2 linked regions of the Homo sapiens genome follow. The protein of the gene in region 2 interacts with the protein of the main gene of each other region in a biochemical or structural test. Each region holds a gene or a part of one and is shown on either strand. Other genes may lie near its edges.

What was found. Proteins that work in one complex are often made in the same cells at the same time.
Region 1: of the proteins of NMT1 (region 2) and CABP1, one has a biochemical effect on the other in vitro, tested with the Homo sapiens proteins (one study listed by BioGRID).

What each region holds. Positions count from the first base shown.
Region 1 is NC_000012.12:120,657,595-120,664,628, forward strand, and holds part of CABP1 (calcium-binding protein 1), read left to right. Parts: intron 1-2,283; coding exon 2,284-2,314; intron 2,315-2,601; coding exon 2,602-2,745; intron 2,746-3,136; coding exon 3,137-3,246; intron 3,247-3,476; coding exon 3,477-3,624; intron 3,625-7,034. UniProt on the Homo sapiens protein: Modulates calcium-dependent activity of inositol 1,4,5-triphosphate receptors (ITPRs). Inhibits agonist-induced intracellular calcium signaling.
Region 2 is NC_000017.11:45,099,287-45,106,320, forward strand, and holds part of NMT1 (glycylpeptide N-tetradecanoyltransferase 1), read left to right. Parts: intron 1-118; coding exon 119-227; intron 228-3,664; coding exon 3,665-3,835; intron 3,836-4,422; coding exon 4,423-4,590; intron 4,591-5,572; coding exon 5,573-5,710; intron 5,711-6,332; coding exon 6,333-6,353; 3' UTR 6,354-7,034.

The DNA of each region.
Region 1 (7,034 bases), on a different chromosome or scaffold from region 2:
GGCACATTAGTGGGCATCCCTGGCTCTACTCCAGGGCAGAGAACACACATAGCTACTGCTGTGCATGGGGTGTGTGATCCAAGGACCAGCCATCAGTGCTCAGCAGACCAGCTCTGGTGGCGGGCACACTCCGTGAAGGGGCACCTGGCTTTGCTGCCCCCGGGGCTTTGGGTGTACAGGAGGAACGGAAGGGGCTGCCATGGGGTCAGCAATGCCTGTTCCTCCCGAGTCCTGCAGAACTGGGCCTTGGAGAAGTGGGAGGCTGCTTAAGGCCTGATGCGTGGGAAAGGATTTATTGGGTCTCAGTAGCTGGTCCTAGGGCGTGTGCTCTGCATGTATGTGTACACACGTGTGCTTACTCACTCGCTTTCACAGACTGCTGGTATGACCCATTGCACAAAACATCCTTTTTGGTCACCCAAAAACATCTACGAACATATGGGTTTGTGTTGGAATGGCTGTGACCTACCCTTAAGCCAGGCACCATCACCAGCTTTTTTTTTTTTTTTTTTTTTTTGAGACAGAGTCTCACTCTCTTGTCCAGGTGGAAGTGCAGTGGTGCAATCTTGGATCACTGCAATCTCTGCCTCCCAGGCTCAAGTGATTCTCCTGCCTCAGCCTCCCGAGTAGCTGGGACTACAGGCGTGAACCACCATGCTTGGCTAACTAAAACAAGGTTTTTTGGTAGAGACGAGGTCTCACTATATCGCCCAGGCTGGTCTCGAACTCCTGGCTTCAAGTGATCCCCTCGCCTTGGCCTCGTAAAGTGCTAGGATTACAGGCGTGGACCACCGTGCCTGGCCCATAGCGAGCTTTTTAGGTGAACGTCCATGCAGTCATCTCAGAGACACGCCTCCCTATGGGTGACTCCTACCCCCAGCCTGGCGGAGCTGGGAGCTTGCAGCCTGCTCCCTCCAAGCTCACACACACTCTCAACGCTGTCCTGCCACACAGAGCTACCTCTGAGCTCTTGGTCCTATGCACCTGGTTGTCCCATGAGATGTGACTCAGCAGCCCTTCCCTTTCTAGATGATCTGCAGATTTTCTGGTGTTGTCGTCTTTTGTCCTGGGGCCAGTTTGGAGTGGCTGTCTCTACTCATCCTGGCCCCGTTGGCTGGAACGGCCTGCATGCACAGTGGAGGTGCCACACGCTCACTGTGGCATGCCTGCGTGTCTGTGTTCGTGGGAGGTATGGCCATACCTGTGTGAGCCTCTTCAGGACGGGCACACCTGCCTGGTGTCCTCCCTGCCCAAAGGCAAAGAGCTGCAACATGCGGGAGGCTGGACGCTGAAGGCCACTTTTGGAGTCTACTAACCAGGTCCAGCTGGGCACCTGTATCCATTTCATGCCAGTCTATCTCCCTCCTGGGCAGGCCCAGGGCAACTGGCAGCTCACCAACCTGAGCTTCCTCCAGGCCTGCTCCTTGGAGATGTCTCTGCCATCTGTTCTGACGCCTAGATTCAGGGTTGCCTTGATTGCCCAGGAGACCTGGGCACTGCTTGAGGCTGGAGACATGTGCTTTTTGGACCCTGGCTCCAGCCAGAAGCACTGGTGGCCCCCGGGGTCCTATGTGGTGTCCTGTGATCCCATGACAGGGGAACGTACAGGGATGGGGGTCAAATTGGAGAAGGTGGGGCAGTGCCCGCGAAGCAGTCACAGCCCCATTCTGTTGCCACGTCTCCTCCTGACTCCTCCCTGTCCTCCTACCCTCGCTTCAGGATGGCCCTGCCTTCCCTCCCCTCCTGCGCCTCTTCTGTTGTCTTGCAGCCTCTGTCGCCCTGCTCTTCCTGTTTCATTGGGTGGTGCTCTCTTTTCCCTGTTGTGACCTCCCTGGACTCTGTTTTATTTGCAGGTTTTTGCCACCAGGCAAGCTCTGTTCTCTGACTCATTCTTTTTTTGTTTTTTTTTTTTGAGACAGGGTCTCACTCTGTTGTCCAGGGTGACAGAGTGCAATGGCACCATCATAGCTCACTACAGCCTCAAACTCCTGCTGACCCATTCTTGTATCTGGAACAAGGGGCTGGAGGCACAGAGGTTCTGTGCCCAGGCTGGTGGGGCTGGTGGCTTCTTGGGCATCTCCTGTTAGGGGCCCAGGAGCTTCTATGTCTAAGGGAGATGTGGGGCTTTCTTCTCCCCTCAAGGACCTGATCCAGGCACACCTGTGCTGCATCCTCGTCACCTCCTACCCAGTGCCTGCTGCCACGTGGATGGCCCCCAGGTTAGGTATTTTGTGACTTCCAGGTCCCTTGTCGCGGCTAATAGGACATGTTCTTTTGTTTCAGGATAGATCACTGCGACCAGAGGAAATTGAAGGTAAAACTTGGCCCCTTGGGGGAAAGGACTGCCTAGCCCTCTAGGAAGGTGTGGGAAGGGAGGTTGATGGGAAGAGAGGCCCCTGGAAATGGGGCCTGGTGCAACGCGGGGTATCTTCTGTGAAACCAGCTGCTGAAGGTGTGCACAGGAGGCAAGAGAAATGCCCCAGCATCCTGGGAAGCTCCTGGGCCTCTCTTTCCATGCCGGTGGGCCTTTGGGCTGCCTTTGCCCACAGAGGCTCTGCGGGTCCTACCCCTGACCACATCCACCTTTGCTCACTTCCCCAGAGCTCCGAGAGGCCTTCAGAGAATTCGACAAGGACAAGGATGGCTACATCAACTGCCGGGATCTGGGCAACTGCATGCGCACCATGGGCTACATGCCCACCGAGATGGAGCTCATCGAACTGTCCCAGCAGATCAACATGAACCGTGAGTCCCTCTACCAGGCATCTGCGTCCCTTCGGTCCTCACCCTTGCCGTCCTCTGCAGTCAGACAGGACTGGCTTCAAATTCTGCATCCACCTCTTACCAGCTCTGTGATCTGGGGCCAACCACTTACCCTCTCTGAGCCTCAGTTTCCTCACCTGTAAAATGAGGGCCGAATTGGAGGAGTGGAGCCCAGAAAGTAGATTAGGGAATATCTGTAAAACAGCCCAATAACTGGCTCACAGGAAGAACTGAACAGAGGGCTCTTGTTATTATTAAGTTTGTCTCTATCTGATGAGCAGGTCAAGGAGGGGTTGTCCATTCTGTCAGTTGTCTAGTTGGAGACAGGGAATGGGTATGTCGGGGATGACCTAGCCCTTTCCTCCTTTTCCAGTGGGTGGCCATGTAGATTTTGATGACTTCGTGGAGCTAATGGGGCCTAAACTCCTGGCAGAGACAGCAGATATGATTGGTGTAAAGGAACTGCGAGATGCTTTCCGAGAGGTAACGGACAGAGGCAGGCAGGCATGGGGCGGCTATTGGAATCCTATCTGCAGTATAAATACTTCAAAAGAAGCCTGAGCCTCAAGTCCCAGATCAGGGGAGGGAGCTTGGACAGAGAAAGGTCTCTGGTAAAGGGGGGCAATGACACTGGAGAAGGAGCTCAACTTTGGGATCTGCTGCTGCCAATCGCCATGCTGGGGCGACCTCTCCTTCCTTCCTGCCTTCTCTAGTTTGACACCAATGGTGATGGGGAAATAAGCACCAGTGAGCTGCGAGAGGCTATGAGGAAGCTCCTGGGTCATCAGGTGGGACACCGAGACATAGAGGAAATTATCCGAGATGTGGACCTCAATGGGGATGGACGAGTGGACTTTGAAGGTAGGTGGGGCTTGAAAGTGGGAGAGAAGCAAGCCAGCAGTGGCCATCCATGGAGCCCTCCAATTGTGTATCCATCATGCAACCATCAATCCGCCCTAATTTTCCAACCCCCAGCCCTTTCATCCTCTTATCCCTCCGTCCATGCCCCCGTCTAATCCATCTCCCATCCCTTCCCCATGCATCTATTCATGCATCTGTCCATCCATCTATCCATCCTCTACCTTTCCATTCATCTGTCCATTTATCCATCCATTCATCTACCTATCTATCCATCTGTCCACCATCCATCCATCCATCCATTTATCTACCCATCTATCCATCCATCCATCCTCTACCTATCCATCCATCTGTCCATTTATCCATTCATCCATTCATCTACCTATCTATCTATCTGTCCATCATCCATCCATCCATTTATCCATCCATCCATCCGTCCATCCATTCGTCTACATATCTATCCATCCATCCATCCATCCATCCACCTATCCATCCATCTGTCCATCCATTCATCTACCTATTCATCTATCTGTCCATCTTTCCATATCTATCTCTCCATTTTTCATCTGTTTATCTCCTTATCTGTCCAGATGCCTATTTATCCATTCCTCCATCTCTAAGCAATCATTCCTATAGCAATTTATCCATGCATTTATCTGTCCATTCGTGCATCTATTCATTCTTCTCTACATTCACCCATGAATCTATCTATGTATTCATCTACTCATATAGATCTCTCTATGTGTTCACACTTCTATACTTCCATTCACACATTCATGTCTCTTCGTCTGCATATACTTCTACCCATACTTGCATTGATCTATCCATCTATCTGTTCAGTCATTTCCTCATCTATATCCATCTACTCATCCATTCACCCATCCCTGTGTCCATCTGCACCCATCCTTCTCTATCCATTTATCTGTCTACCCACGCATGCATCCATCCACGGTAGGTGTTTTCTGAACATTACATTCCTCAACTGGACACTCAGGCTCCCTAAGATCTGACCACAGCTCACCTCCCCAGCCACAACTCAACAGTCCTTCATTCACACTCCACCAAAATACTTGTGATCAGTGAAGCTGCTAGGGTCCCTCTTGAATACACTGATCTTTTTGCCAGGAGGGCTTTTTTGTTGTTGTTTGTTTGTTTGTTTGTTTGAGACAGAGTCTCACTCTGTTGCCCAGGCTGGAGTGTGGTGGCAGGATCTTGGCTCACTGCAAACTGCGCCTCCCAGATTCAAGTGATTCTCCTGCCTCAGCTTCCCAAGTAGCTGGGATTACAGGCGCCCACCACCATGCCCGGCTAATTTTTGTATTTTCAGTTGAGACGGGGTTTCACCATGTTGACCAGGCTAGTCTTGAACTCCTGACCTCAAGTGATCCACCCGCCTCGGCCTCCCAAAGTGCTGGGATTACAGGCGTGAGCCACTGTGCCTGGCCACCAGGAGGGCTTTTATCCTGTTCTTTTTTTTTTTTTTTTTGAGACAAAGTCTCGCTCTTGTACTCCAGGCTGGAGTGCAATGGCACGATCTCAGCTCACTGCAACCTCTGCCTCCTGGATTCAAGCGATTCTCCTGCCTCAGCCTCCCGAATAGCTGGGATTACAGGCGCCTACCACCACGTCCAGCTAGTTTTTGTATTTTCAGTAGAGATGGGGTTTCACTATGTTGGCCAGGCTGGTCTGGAACTCCTGAACTCAGGTGATCCACCCGCCTTGGCCTCCCAAAGTGCTGGGATTATAGGTGTGAGCCACTGCATCTGGCCTATCCTGTTTTTTACTTGGGCTAAGTTCTGTTAGCCCAAGGGACATTCTTCATGACTCGACAGTGGGACTCCTTCTTCTAGCACCCTTCCCTGGTTCCTCAAACTGAACTTCCTCTTTTCTGGGTTTTCACAGCACGTCAGGCTCACCTGTTCTTCACACTGTCCCCTAACTGCTGGTTAGAGTTGTCTTCCCAGTTGACTCTGAACTTTGAAAGAAGAACCCTATTTTCTTAATCACTGCATTTCTTGCATAACACAGCTAGTGCTCAGTGAAAGGTTATTTATTTATTTATTTATTTATTTATTTTAAGACAGGGTCTTGCTCTGTCGCCCAGGCTGGAGTGCAGTGGCGTAATCTCGGCTCACTGCAACCTCCGCCTCCCGGGTTCAAGTGATTCTTGTGGCTCAGCCTCCCGAGTAGCTGGGACTATAGGGGTGCACCACCATGCCTGGCTAATTTTTTGTATTTTTAGTAGAGACAGGGTTTCACCATGTTGGCCAGGCTGGTCTCGAACTCCTGGCCTCAAGTGATCCACCCGCCTTAGCCTCCCAAAGTGCTGGGATTACAGTCGTGAGCCACCGCGCCCAGCCTCAAAGACTTTCTTTTTAAAGAATCAATAGTAATCATAATAGTTATAATTTACTGTACACTTATGTGCAGTCATTGTACTAAGTAGCTTTACACATATTCTTACATTTAATTCTCAGAATGACTCTATGGATTGCATTATTATAACCTCATGTTACAGATGAGGAAACTGAGGCTCAGAGAAGTAATATAACTAGCTCAAGATTGCCTGCCTACTAAGAGGCAGAGCTGGGGCACAGCCCCAGGCCTGAAATCACAGCAGAATGCAGTCTTGTGCATGACGCCATGTGAGGCACTACGGGATACAGGGAAAGGGTAAAATGTTGACTCTGCACACCAGGAACTTGCATTCTGAGCAGAAAGACAAGATAAGCATGTGCCAGAGACCGTGAGTGTCCAGAACACAAAGGCTGGGAGGTTTTCTCTCAGGAGCAGTTGGCCTTCAAGGCCAGGGAGCGTGGATAGTTGGAGAGAAGGCTTTGTTATCACCAGATCTGGAAATCTCAGGTCTCCCTGTATCCAGGTAGCGCCCACCACAGATGACAGCCTTGCTCTTGAAAGCCTGGCATCCCCCATTCATCCTACGAGGATGCATTGTACATCTGCTGTGTGCTAAGATCTGGTCTCTGCCTCGAAGAGCTCAAAACCAGCAAGAAAACCAGAGAAAACAATAGCATAATCCATGTGTGCTGGGGGAAGCACAGGGGGCTGCTATAGAGGGGGCGCCTGTGCCAAGTTGCAGGGAGGGATTAGGGAAGACTTCCTGGAGGAGGTTATAAATAATTAGAGCCCCCCAAAATGGGAAGAGCCACCAGGTGAGAGGGAAGGGCAGGTATTTACCCAAATGAGTTGAAAACCTATGTCCACACAAATCTGTACATAGATGCTTATAGCAGCTTTATTCATAATTGTCCAAACTTGGAAACAACCAAGGTGTCCTTTCAGTAAGTGATGGATAAATAAACGGGGGCACATCCAGACAATGGGATATTGCTCAGTGCTAAAAAGAGATGAGCTAGGCCAGGCGCTGTGGCTCATGCCTGTAATCCCAGCAC
Region 2 (7,034 bases):
CCGGAGGCACCTGATGTGTCTCTCACGCCACCTGCTGGCCAGCTGGGGTCTCCCTGCCATTGTCCTTGTAATAGGGATTGGCCAGAACCCTGAGGACAGGACATTTGTGTCCCCACAGGTATTGGCATCGGTCCCTAAACCCACGGAAGCTGATTGAAGTGAAGTTCTCCCACCTGAGCAGAAATATGACCATGCAGCGCACCATGAAGCTCTACCGACTGCCAGAGGCCAGTGCTGCCCCGGGTGGTGGGCAGGGGGCAGAGAGAGGGCAAGGAGAGCCTGGCTGTCAGCAGGAGAGAAGGGCTCTGGGTGGAGAGGGAGCTTTCTCCTACTGGAAAAGCGAACCAGCCCATAGTCTTCAGATTTCCTGGACTTTCTATTTCTGTTATCTGAAGCAGGATTTTATTTTAGTTTAACTTTCTCAGTTCCTCTGAGTCTGTGCCTGGACTAGCTTCTCTGCCATCTGTTGAAAGGCTCAGAGAACACCTATTCTCTGTAATTTTAGCCTAAGTAAAGCATAAATAGAATGATGAATCCACTTAGTGAACCTTCATACACACGGCAGCGCGTTCCAAAGCCCAGCGCAGATGCACTACAGGGTCTGTGACGCCCCTCTGCCGGGTCAGGTAAAGGGTGACCTGAGCTTGTGAGGGATCCCCGATTTCTAATCCCAATTTCCCCACCCAGATTTGGCTGAAGGACTGGGCAACCTTAAAGTGAGCTGCTTTTCTGTTCTGGGTCTCAGTTTTCCTAGTTTCCCAAAGAAACAAATGCTCCAACTGTGGCTGGCTTCAGGTAGGGATTCTTTTTTTTTTGTTTTGAGACAGGGTCTCATTCTGTTGCCCAGGCTGGAGTGCAGTGGCACAGTCACAGCTCACTGCAGCCTCGACCTCCCAGACTCAACTGATTCTCCCACCTCAGCCTCCCAAGTAGCTGGGACTACAGGCGTGTGCCGCCATGCCCGGCCAATTTTTGTTTTTATAGAAACGGGGTTTTGCTGCCAGGCGCAGTGGCTCACGCCTGTAATCCCAGCACTTTGGGAGGCTGAGGTGGGCAGATCACGAGATCAGGAGATCAAGACCATCCTGGCTAACACGGTGAAACCCCGTCTCTAGTAAAAATATAAAAAATTAGCCAGTCGTGGTGTGGTGGGTGCCTGTAGTCCCAGCTACTTGGGAGGCTGAGGCAGGAGAATGGCATGGACCCGGGAGGTGGAGCTTGCAGTGAGCCAAGATCACGTCATTGCACTCCAGCCTAGGCGACAGAGCGAGACTCCGTCTCAAAATAAAAGAAGCCTGGGCGTGGTGGCTCACGCCTGTAATCCCAGCACTTTGGGAGGCCAAGGCAGGCGGATCACGAGGTCAGGAGATCGAGACCATCCTGGCCAACACGGTGAAACCCTGTCTCTAATAAAAATACAAAAAATTAGCTGGTCGTGGCGTGGCGGGCACCTGTAGTCCCAGCTACTTGGGAGGCTGAGGCAGGAGAATGGCATGAACCTGGGAGGCGGAGCTTGCAGTGAGCCAAGATCGCACCACTGCACTCCAACCTAGGCAACAGAGCAAGACTCCGTCTCAAAAAAAAAAAAAAAAAAAAAAAAAAAAAAAAAAGAAGGCCAGGCGCGGTGGCTCACACCTGTAATCCCAGCACTTTGGGAGGCCTAGGCGAGTGGATCACGAGGTCAGGAGATCGAGACCATCCTGGCTAACATGGTGAAACCCCGTCTCTACTAAAAATACAAAAAAAAATTAGCCGGGCTTGGTGGTGGGCGCCTGTAGTCCCAGCTACTCGGGAGGCTGAGGCAGGAGAATGGCGTGAACCCGGGAGGCGGAGCTTGCAGTGAGCTGAGATAGCGCCATTGCACTCCAGCCTGGCCCACAGAGCGAGACTCCATCTCAAAAAAAACAACAACAACAAAAAAAGGATTTTGCCATGTTGCCCAGGCTCATCTGAATTCCTGGGCTCAAGTGATCCACCCACCTCAGCCTCTCAAAGTGCTGGGATTACAGGCATGAGCCACTGTGCCCATCCCAGTAGGGATTCTTAAAATCCCTTCTCAGGTGGGCGGTGGCTCACGCCTGTAATCCCAGCACTTTGGCAGGACAAGGCGGGTGGATCACGAGGTCAAGAGATTGAGACCATCCTGCCAACATGGTGAAACCCTGTCTCTACTAAAAACACAAAAATTAGCTGGGTGTGGTATGTGCCTGTAATCCCAGCTACTTGGGAAGCTGAGGCAGCAGAGTTGCTTGAACCTGGGAGGCAGAGGTTGCAGCGAGCCGAGATCGCACCATTGGACTCCAGCCTGGCGACAGAGCAAGACTCCGTCGCAAAAAAAAAAAAAAAAAAAAAAGGAAAGAAAGAAAAAATCTCTTCTCTTTCCTCGGAGTGCTTCTTCCTATTGGTCATCAGTGCACACAGTCACTGCGTTCCTGCTGACATGAGGCTGCCTGCCTGGACTCCTCAGCCTCTAAACAGGATTGATCACTCTGAAATCAGGCTAATCCACCTAGTGATTGGGGTCATTAGTGTCCCATCTTGAGAGACTGCTGCAGTACCGTTAGACACTGCCAAAAGCACAGGCTTGGGGGACTGTGGTATGTGTCTTCTCCCTTCTGTTCTCATGACAGATCTGCCTTGCGTTCTAGGCCGGTGGGCAGGCAGGCAGAGAGCATTCTTAGAGTGCTGCAGCAGCAGAAGAATGTCTCACCCATGTCTGGGTGGAAACCCCAGCATGGCTGTGTTTTCAGTCCAGGATTTGAGGTATCATTGTGGGAGCTGCCATGTAGAATGAGGTCATTGAGCGTTCCCCTAAAGAGACGAGGATTTAGCAAGGAATTTTAGAGGCTGGAGGTTCTAGAACTGAAGTTTTAAAAGCAATTCCTGCACTGGGAAGCATTGTGTCAGGCACTGACTGAGGCCTGTAAACTGTGACACCACCCTGTTTGCAGATTGCCCCAAGGCCACCTTTGTGTATCTGAGCCTCTGGGGATGTTCTACCAGCCCCGGTATTTGCTCCACAGGATCACATGGTTTCATTCCACTGAAGCATTTTTCTAGCAAAAGCAGCTGCCGGGTGGGACGCTGACTGGGGATAAAATCCTGGGAGTATGCTGCTTTTCTTCTGAATGTAACCCACAGCCGTGTCTCTCTGGGAAGTACTGGTGTAATAGTGTCTGGGTGGGCAGACCCTGGCTGGGCCCTGGGGTCTGTCCGCGAAGTGCTCTAAGTCTAGCAGAGAAAGAGCAGTGAGTGTGGGATGGCATCAGTCACAGTTCAGTGAGAAGCCTGTGAGGACTGTTGGGCTGCGTGGGCAGAAGGTACAGCTAGAAAGGCCAACCTGGCCCAAGGGTAGAAATTCTTGTCTTCTGGGGTGGGGAGTTTGAAACAAGGGTGGAGCATGAAGGGTTGTGTTTTCTTAGGGAGTCAGCCTGGGGCCATGTAGATGGTTGATTGATGTAGCAGTCTGAGTCTGCCTGGACTAGGAGGGAAAGGGCCAGAAGATACGGAAGAGGCAGGCCCTGTGCCTGAGGAGATATGCACGGGGGTGCAGGGAGCCGCCGAATGACCAGGGATTCTCTCTTGAGGGCCTGATCTGTCCTTGCCATGGATAGATCCAGGGTGATCAGCTCATCTCACTCCATCTCTTCTGTCTTGCCTCCAGACTCCCAAGACAGCTGGGCTGCGACCAATGGAAACAAAGGACATTCCAGTAGTGCACCAGCTCCTCACCAGGTACTTGAAGCAATTTCACCTTACGCCCGTCATGAGCCAGGAGGAGGTGGAGCACTGGTTCTACCCCCAGGAGAATATCATCGACACTTTCGTGGTGGAGGTGAGTCAGGGAGTGGTGTTCCAGGTCTCTAACACGTTCCCAGAGAGGCACCCCCCTGAGTGGCCGGGTTCCCAGGGCTCGAGTGTTGGCACCTTAGACTTCCTTGACCATCCGTGTTTGGTCCTCCCTAAAAACAGGGAGTTGGTGCTTGAATTTGCTGAAAAGATACCTCTGGATCTGGCTTGAGCCCTTCTCCCCCTCTGCCCCACTTTGATAACACAAAATAGAGAGAACTGAGCCCCGCTTAATCCTTCAGGAAAGCCTGCAATTCCCTGCCTGTCCCAGCTTAACCCAGTGCTGACCAGACATAGGAGACACAGTCTGGGGGGATGTGAGCTGCAAGAAGAGGTCCCTGGCGGTGCCCATGCTGGGAAAGAGGTCTGGCAGGTTCAGCCCACGATCACGGCTCTGTCCTCAAGTGCCCTGAGCCAATGTCCCTCCTCCTCCCCACATGTCCTGTTGCAGTTTCCAGCCATTTATCTAGAGGGGCAGAGCTGCCTGAAGGTGGAGTGAGAGAAACATTTTGTTCCCGGGCCGCAGTGCCACTGTGCATGCTTGACATTGCCTCTTTATTGCCTTCCCTTCAGAACGCAAACGGAGAGGTGACAGATTTCCTGAGCTTTTATACGCTGCCCTCCACCATCATGAACCATCCAACCCACAAGAGTCTCAAAGCTGCTTATTCTTTCTACAACGTTCACACCCAGACCCCTCTTCTAGACCTCATGAGCGACGCCCTTGTCCTCGCCAAAATGGTGAGGAGCAGACGGGGGGGTCTCTGGAGATGTGCAGGGAAGAGGCAGTGGAGCCATGGTGAGCACAGCTCCCGGGACGCAGCCTCCCATGGGCTGGAGGCTCTGAGCCCTCCTCATCTGTTCTGCTTAGGCAGGGTTCCCGCAGTTTTTAGGCAGAAACTCAAAACTTGGAGGGAACAAGGAGCATCCGAAGTGAAGGCATTGAACTCCTCCTGATTCATTTCAGTGAGTTTCGTTCTCACAGGAGGCGCCACCAAGGAGCCTGAATAGCCAGGCCTTCCCTGGGAGGACAGGGCTTCTCCTCACAGCTTTCCCAGCGTGGGAAAGGGGTGATTGCTGTCTGTCGTGGTGAGTCATTGGAGCATCCAACTGCCAGTAGCGGATGGCGAGCCCGTCTGTCAGTGCTTTGCTGTGGGTTCTGGTAACCTGTGCCCAGCCCAGCCCAGCCTGCTGTAGGCAATCTGGTCCCTGCCCTGTGAGAGCTTCTGCTCCAGTTGGTGAGGTTTAGGAAGCATCTTCACAGTCTCCAAGCAACACAGCAGGTGTCATACAACATGAGGTGCACTGAGGGCCTGAGAGTTGGGGCATCCATGGAGTAAGGAAGCAACACAAACCCCATGTAGCTGACCAGAGCCAGCTTCTCAGAGGAATGGGCTCAGGGTTTGGACTCCAGAGAGGACTGTGGAAATTACTAGAGTTTCAGGGAGGCATAACCAGGAATAGCAAGAGCCCCGGCCTGGACACTGAGTACATATGTGTACACTCTGAGGGACACTGGGCAGAGGCCAGGCTGGAGGGGGCGCTCAGAGTGTCCTGAGAACCACCCGGAGAGCGGGGATTAACGTGGAAGCAGCGGAGCTTCTGAGGGAACCTTGTTCTTGTGGCTGCCCACAGGACAGCTTTGAAATGGCAGCAAAGGGGTAGGAAGGAGGCTGTCCCCACCTGTCCTCACCTGTTCTTGTTTGTCCCTGCTGCTTTGCAGAAAGGGTTTGATGTGTTCAATGCACTGGATCTCATGGAGAACAAAACCTTCCTGGAGAAGCTCAAGTTTGGCATAGGGGACGGCAACCTGCAGTATTACCTTTACAATTGGAAATGCCCCAGCATGGGGGCAGAGAAGGTAGGCGACACATAGCCAGAGTCCAGGCTGCCCGGCCCAGGGTGTCCATGTCTCCAGCAGAAACCGGGCCATGGGTTGAGGAGACAGCCGCAGTCTGGGTCCTTGTTACCTCGAGTTGAACCTTTGAAAATGCCCTCCCTCTGCTGGCCAGACCAGCAGGTCAGCGTTCCCCTCTCAGCAACTGGTGTGAGGATGGCAGAGGGGACAGAGCCACACAGTAGCACGAAGATCATCTCCAATGAGGCCTTCCCACGTGAGGGAACCGTGGAAGTTGAGTTGCCCACGGTTTGCCAGGAGGGTAGGGCTGGGGGAACTCTGAGGAGGTTTCCTCTCCTGAGCTGCTGCCCTCTTCTGGCATGACACTTTCTTAGCCCTTCCTCCCCCAGTGCCACAGGGGACATAGGGGTGAGCTGGAGCGTGGGCCAGTTTTCCCTGGGAGGTCTGATGGACGTGTGAACCCTGGTGTGGAGGTTGAGTGTGGGGCCGGCTGGGTGTGAGTCTGCTCCCACAGCACAGGCGGTGGACCCGGGCCCAGCCACTCGGAACTTCAGGGATAGGGGGTGTGGGAGAGTCTTTGGGCCACTGTCAACTCAGCTCTGCCTCTCCCTGTTGGCTTTCCTAGGTTGGACTGGTGCTACAATAACCAGTCACCAGTGCGATTCTGGATAAAGCCACTGAAAATTCGAACCAGGAAATGGAACCCCACCACTGTTGGTCCAATTTTCACACACGTGAGAATCCCTGGCAAAGGGAGCAGAACTGAACCGGCTTTACCAAACCGCCAGCGAACTTGACAATTGTATTGCGATGGCGTGGGCTGCGTGACGTCACCTCCGGTCGTGTCTCTGGTCTCCGTGTTTTCCAGTTAATTACATCCTCATGCAGCCGTGATCAAGGGAATGTAACTGCTGAAAACTAGCTCGTGATTGGCATATAATGGAGTTAACGGGTGAATAATAAAAGTATATATATATATTATATATATATAAATATTTTAAATATCTTTCATGTTCCAAATGTACAAGGATGTTTGGTCTTTAATGAAAAGCTGAATCCAGATCATTCCTCAGAATGAGGACCCGAGGACAGTGGCAGACAGACGCGTTGGCACAGTTCATGGTTTCCTCCAGAGGAGACATTGGCTTATCATGGGGAAAAAGAGGATCTGGAGAACCTCATCCAGCTCCCCTTCTGAATCAGCTGGGATGACTGGCTTTGAGAAGGAAGGGAAGATGGAACAGGCTCAGATCTCATGGGATAGCACGTGGAGCTCTTGGCTGGGGCTGACCCTGGGCAGGGACTTTCCTGCAGGGCCAGACCTGCC